Linked DNA regions of Homo sapiens. The protein of the gene in region 1 purifies or fractionates together with the protein of each later gene. This does not show direct contact. Each region holds a gene or a part of one and is shown on either strand. Other genes may lie near its edges.

Evidence for each region. The genes of interacting proteins can lie anywhere in the genome.
Region 2: the proteins of TESK2 (region 1) and NAV1 purify together in Homo sapiens (affinity purification with mass spectrometry, with the first as the bait; one large-scale study listed by BioGRID). This does not show direct contact.

Annotation. Positions count from the first base shown.
Region 1 is NC_000001.11:45,484,664-45,488,163, reverse strand, and holds part of TESK2 (dual specificity testis-specific protein kinase 2), read left to right. Parts: intron 1-3,500. UniProt on the Homo sapiens protein: Dual specificity protein kinase activity catalyzing autophosphorylation and phosphorylation of exogenous substrates on both serine/threonine and tyrosine residues. Phosphorylates cofilin at 'Ser-3'. May play an important role in spermatogenesis.
Region 2 is NC_000001.11:201,542,127-201,545,626, forward strand, and holds part of NAV1 (neuron navigator 1), read left to right. Parts: intron 1-3,500. UniProt on the Homo sapiens protein: May be involved in neuronal migration.

The sequences.
Region 1 (3,500 bases):
AGTGGGAGGATCGCTTGAGCCCAGGAGTTTGCGACCAGCATGGGCAACATTGTGAGACCTCGTCTCTACAGAAAATTAAAAAATTAGCTGGGTGTGGTGGTGCATGCCTGTTGTCCCAGCTACTGGAGAGGCTGAGGTGGGAGGATTGCTTGAACCGGGAGGCTGAGGTTGCAGGGAGTCAAGATTGTACCACTGCACTCCAGCCTGGGGGAAAGAAAAAAAAAAAAGCAAAAAAAAACTCAGGAGCTAAAAGATTGTTGACCACATTGAGGGTCCTACTAGTTAGAAATAATATATTTGTAATGGGGCCCAGGAGCATGGATTTTACACTTTCTTCAACAGCCTAAGAATAGTAGGACAAAAAAGATGGTTGGATTGATTCAAAATGGAAACTTGCAGGACAGAAAGATAAAATGGGAAGCAACTTTACACTGCTATTGATAGTGTAGGAGATATGTTTCATTCCAAGGGACCAAGCTGGGAGTTATAAGAAGCAAAATCTAGAGGGAGGCTGGTGTACTTAGAGAATAAAAAGACAATCAGAAATGTGGTTGAAGACCAGATTTTGTAAGAAATATATAATTGGACAGCCCAGAGTTCATTATTTCAAGGTAAAGACAAAAACTGGCTTAACTGTCTCAATGCTGTTGAAGGGGAATGGAGGTGTAGGTTATTGAAGTAGTGGGAGATTAGGGGGCTGTGTTGAATATGTCATCAATATGAATGTCACAGTTGTCCAGCATGATAGCAGGAGATTGAGCAGAGGAGATAGTAAGTCCTATAGGTGGGCCTGCTCACCAAGGAGGGACCCAGAGTTGGATTGGTGGTTCCTTGGCACTTGTTGAAAAGTAGTACCAAATGGTACAGATGTTTGTATATGAATTAATGGTGATATCCTCAGATACTTGATGCCCTGGATGTATGATGTGTTATTCTCTCTTACAGATATATGTTTGGGATAGACCCTCAAACACAAAAAATCCTTTGTAAGCTTGACATATGATGGGCTTTGATTCTGTTTAAAATATATGTGCTGGCTGGGTGCGGTTGCTCACACCTGTAATCCCAGCACTTTGGGAGGCCAAGGCGGGTGGATCACTTGAGGTCAGGAGTTCGAGACTAGCCTGACCAACATGGAGAAACCCTGTCTCTACTGAAAAAAAAAATACAAAAATTAGCTGGGCGTGGTGGTGCATGCATGTAATCCCAGCTACTTGGGAGGCTGAGGCAGGAGAATCGCTTGAACCCGGGTGGTGGAGGTTGCGGTTAGCCGAGATCGGGCCACTGCACTCCAGCCTGGGCAACAAGAGCGAAAGTCCGTCTCAAAAAAAAAAAATGTATATATGTGTGTGTGTGTGTGTGTGTGTGTGTGTGTGTGTGTATGCTGGGAGGCTAGGGACTCTCCACCTCAGGATCCTCAGTAACATTTTTTTATGGTTTTAGTTAATTGTGTGTGTGTGCGTTTGTTTTTTTTTTTAATTAATTTTTTTTTATGGGGTCTTGCTCTGTCACCCAGGCTGGAGTGCAGTGGCAAGATCTCGGCTCACTGCAAGCTCCGCTTCCCAGGTTCACACCATTCTCCTGCCCCTCAGCCTCCTGAGTAGCTGGGATTACAGGCGAGGGCCACCATGCAGGGCTAATTTTTGTATTTTTAGTAGAGATGGGGTTTCACCATGTTGGCCAGGCTGGTCTCAAAAGGTTTTAGTTAATTGTAAAAAGAAAATTACACATTTAAATATGCTCATCCCGGACTTATTTTGAGGAGAAAACTGACTTGCTTTTATGCTTTCTTCCCTGTATGAAAGTATTTATACATATATTCTTAGTGTCATACATTTCATTTTGTTTTGCAAAAAGAATGTAGTGTTGGAATTTGAAACCTATGGTAAAGGCATTTATGGGAATTTCATCTCCTTCTAGTAGATGAAGCCCAATTATTACATTGTATTGTGTGGGTGATGGTGAATGTTTTGACCCAACAATGGCTATTATACTATTTACAAAGTCATCATATGGAGATGACTTCAGTGTAGTCTCACTAGTGTTATTTTCCCTGAACAATCACAGGCAGTGGCTGTTTCAGAGAAAAGCCTGGTTGTAATAAGTTTTATGTCTTCCATTCCTGAAAATTTCCAAAAGGCAGTGTGATAAAAGGAAAAGAACATTAGGAAAACCTTAGTTGTATTCAACTCTGTTGTTATTAACTATATGATGGTTAATATAAAGGCAAATTACTTATCTTTTGTGAGCTTTAGTTTTTTTTTTTAAGATACATTTAATCTTTGAATAGATAATACATTCAACTGGTTATTAAATGTAAACTTTTTTAATATATAAATTTAGGGCTGGGTGCGGTGGCTCATGCCTGTAATCCCAGCACTTTGGGAGGCTGAGGCAGGTGGATCACTTGAGGTCAGGAGTTCGAGACCAGCCTGGCCAAGATGGTGAAACCCCCTTCTCTACTAAAAATATGAAACATTAGCTGGGTGAGGTGGCCTGCGCCTGCTATCTCAGCTACTTGGGAGGCTGAGGCAGGAGAATCACTTCTACCCAGGAAGTGGAGGTTGCAGTGAGCCGAGATCATGCCACTGTACTGCAGTTTAGGCGACAGAGTGAGACTCCGTCTCAAAAAAAAAAAAATAAAATAAAAAATAAATTTATATAACAGTGAAAAGTCGGCTGGGCGCGGTGGCTCATGCCTGTAATCCCAGCACTTTGGGAGGCCGAGGCGGGCGGATCACGAGGTCCGGAGATCTAGACCATCCTGACTAACACGGTGAAACCCCGTCTCTACTAAAAATACAAAAAATTAGCAGGGCGTGGTGGCACATGTATGTCGTCCCAGCTACTCAGGAGGCGGAGGCAGGAGAAGGGCGTGAACCCGGGAGGTGGAGCTTCAGTGAGCCGAGATCGCGCCACTGCACTCCAGCGTGGGCGACAGAGCGAGACTCCATCTCAAAAAAAAACAAAAAACAAAAAACAAAACAGTGAAAAATCTTACTTCCATCTCTGTTCTTTATTAACCTGGTTCCATGCCCTCTCCCAAACACTTTGAATAGTCTCTTTATATTCTTTTAGACTTTATTTTTTATTTTTAATTTAATTTGATTTAATTAATTAATTTATTTATTTTGAGACGGAGTCTCGCTCTGTTGCCCAGGCTGGAGTGCAGTGGCGCGATCTCGGCTCACTGCAAGCTCCGCCTCCCGGGTTCACGCCATTCTCCTGCCTCGGCCTCCCGAGTAGCTGGGACTACAGGCGCCCGCCACCAGGCCCGGCTAATTTTTTGTATTTTTAGTAGAGACAGGGTTTCACTATGTTAGCCAGGATGGTCTCGATCTCCTGACCTTGTGATCTACCCGCCTCGGCCTCCCAAAGTGCTGGGATTACAGACTTGGGCCACCGCGCCCGGCCCTTTATTTTTTATTTTTGAGACAAGAGTCTCACTCTGTCGCCCAGGCTGGTGTGCAGTGGCGCAGTCTCGGCTTTCTGCAACTTCC
Region 2 (3,500 bases), about 160 Mb from region 1:
ACTGGGGTACTGCAGAAGCCCGCCTAGAATGCAGGGCTCCTGGCTTTCAGTTTAGGGCTCATTCCCTTTCAGCAAATCACTGGGAATTTTTATCTTCCTAGCGTTTCCATCTCAGCAGATGTTACTTACCTCTTAGCTAGAGAGAGGAACAGAAACATATTAGGGTCAAGACAGCTATCTCTGTGATGGAAGCATCTATCAACTTTTCGAGTCTCTGGAACATGGAGAGCTAAGAAATGTGGCAATACTTGGCAAACACTTCGTCTTTCTGGCCCCTAGTCACACACAAAAAATAATAATTAAAAACACTTTTAGTTCCTTCTTCAACTTAAAAATACCCCTCCAACTAGTCTAGCGAAAAACACCCTCCACAGTAAACCGTTTCCTGGGCCTCATCTGTTCCCTTAACCTCCTGGGAAGGCTGACTCAGGCCTGATTTCCTCCGAGAGGCCTGCGATTTTGCTTCCCAGCATCCTGTGACTCTTGAGACGTGAAGCGAGGCAGGATGGCTGAGACCCAGGCCACTCTGACCTGCCTGTGGATGTGGTTCAGGTTCTTACACATGTCCTGTGCAGTTCACACTACCACCCCATCAAATCTATTTGCTCTACTTAATTTTAATATGAGATGCACTAATATGCATATAAAATTAAAGGCTCTGATGCATGTGCCTCTGCCAAGGACCGTTACTAACAAGATGATTCCACTTCAAAAGACTGCAAGACTGTTCTGATATCCAATCCTCAGATGCTCTGAAAGCTTTCATAAATGGAATTGTTTCTTAATTTCCTTTTTGGCTTGTGTATTACTGGTGTGTAGAAACACAGCTGATTTTTGTGTGTTGATCTTGTCCCTTGCAATTTTGCTGAATTTATTAGCTCTAGTAGCTTTTTTGTTTCTGGATTCTTTGGGATTTTCTATACATAGGATCATGTCAACTGTGAATAGAAATAGTTTTACGTCTTTCTTTCCAATTTGAATGATTTTTATTTATTTTTCTTGCCTAATTGCTCTGGCTAGAACTTTCAGTATAATGTTGAGTGGCAGTGGTGAAAGCAGACATCCTTCTCTTGTTCTTGATCTTAGGGGGATTTCTTGATTTTAGCCTTTCACCAGTGAGCGTGATGTTAGCTGTGGGCTTTTCATAAATGTCCTTTGTGTTGAGGAAATCATCTTCTATTTCTAGTTTTCTAATCATTTTTTTTTAATCACAAAGGGGTGTTGAATTTTATGTCAAATGCTTGTTTTCTGTATCACTCGAGATAATCCTGTGGCTTGTTTTTTGTTTCCTTCATTGTGTTAGTGTGGTGCCTTACACTGATTGTTTTTCTTAAGTTGAATCACTCTTTTAGTCCTGGGATAAATCCCTCTGAATTTTTTTTTTTTTATCTGCAAAGTTTCATTTTTTTTTCCCCTGTAAAAAGACAACAAAATTTGACTAAGTGCTAACATTTTACATTAGGATGGGTTGATGTATTTAATTATACTTTTCATTATAATTAGTGTACTTTAAACATCTAACAATTATATTGTGGTAAATATGTATAACCTACAATTTACCATTTTAGCCACTTCTAAATGTACAGTTCAGTGGCATTAAATGCATTTGCATTGTTGTATAACCATCACCTGTAGCCATCTCTGGAACTTTTTTACCTTCCCAAACTTAAACTCTGTACTCATTAAAGAGTAACTCTCCATTCCCCTTCCCTCCTCCCCAAGGCCCCGGCAACCGCCATTTTACTTCCCATCTCTATGAATTTGTGAACATTTTTTAATAACTAGAAGTTAGGCATTAAAGGGTTAAAGGGCTGTATCTTCCTGTCTTCCAGTTTCCCACCAACTCCCTCCAGCCGGAGGGGCCACCACTGGCCCTGATGCAGAGATGAACTGATTGCTGGTCATCCTGAGACTCAGAGGGCACCACGCCCAGCCTCAGCGCGGGCTTCATTTCCTCTAGCTCAGGGATTCTCCATCTTGGTTGCACATTAGCACCACCTGGGGAGCTTTTAAAAATGACCAATTCCTGGGCCCATCCCCAGAGATTCAGCTTCACTTGGTTTGGAATGTGGCTTCAGTGTCTGTCATTTTTAAAAGCTCCCTAGGTGATTTTGATGCACTGTGAGGGTTAGAACTACTCAATGGTTGAGCTGATTTACTCGCTGGAACCCTTGACTGGTCACAGCTTTCAATGACGCAATTCCCTCCCCATCTGGTCGGTAATACTGACCCACTTTACATCCCTTCCCTGATTTTAAAATCCATTTGTAAATAGAGTAAATACCAACTTCTGTAAAATGAAACTTTCAAAGTTGGAAAGAAACTTAAGTGTCATGTAGCTTTTTCTATTCCAGATACATCAAATCCCCCTAAAACATCCCCCTCAGAGGTCATCCAGCTTGGACACCTCTGTTGCTGGGGCATTCCTGCAACACTATGTTGAAATCATCTTATTCTATATTTGGACAGCTCTGTCTCTCAGAGTTCCTCATTGTATTAATCTGTCAGGGATATGACTTCCACCCATCGCTGAAAGATCCCAAAAGCTTAGTGGGCTTCACCAAAATGCATCCCTGAATAAAGTGGAGGATATTCAAAATAAGTCATGCAGAATAAGTGTGATTGCCTACAGAGTGTCAGCCTTTCAATATTTGGGAACAACTACCATGCATCTGTCCCCATCTTTTCTTCTCTGGTCTCAGCAGCCCCACTTCCTTCAGATTTTCACTGGATGTGTCCCCATGTTTTTTCAAGGAAGGTTGATATATGACGTAATAGCAAGATTGTGGACCATGACATAACTAAGACTTGAACTCAAGGTTCAAACATTGACTTTGCACCTGAAGTCCTTAGCGAGATGAGCATTTAGGAAATATTGGCAATTGAAATTATATCCTCCACATGAGCATCATCGCTACACTCTGTGTGACCTTGGGCAGGCCATGGAATCTCTTAGAGACTCTGTTTCTTCCCCAGGAAAAGTGGAATGAAAATGCCTTACTCCTGGGACAATGTTTTCCAACTTGCCTCAGCTTTCAGTCCTAACCTCTTCCTTCTCCTCCTCGTCATTCCACAACCCCACACCTGCATAGATTCCTATGATCTGGCAATTTCAAAAAATACAGTCAAAGAGTGATTGCATGAATCAAGTGAGACCATGTCAGACCTGACTCAGTCTCTGGGATGCTCAATGTGTGTGCTTAATAAATGCCAGATTTAATCTTTTTTCTTTTCTTTTTTTTTTTAATTAATTTATTTATTTTTATTTATTTATTTTTTATTTGAGACAGAATCTCTCTCTCTGTCACCCAGGCATGTAGCTTTTTCTATTCCAGATACATGTTGGCCAGGCTGGTCTCAAACTCTTGGCCTCAAGTGATCTGCCTGCCTCTGCCTCCCAAAGTGTTGAGGATTACAGGCGTGAGCCACTATGCCCAGTCTCATCCTATTTCTTACTCACCTTCCTCATTATATGCATCACCCTTTAAATGCTAGTTTCT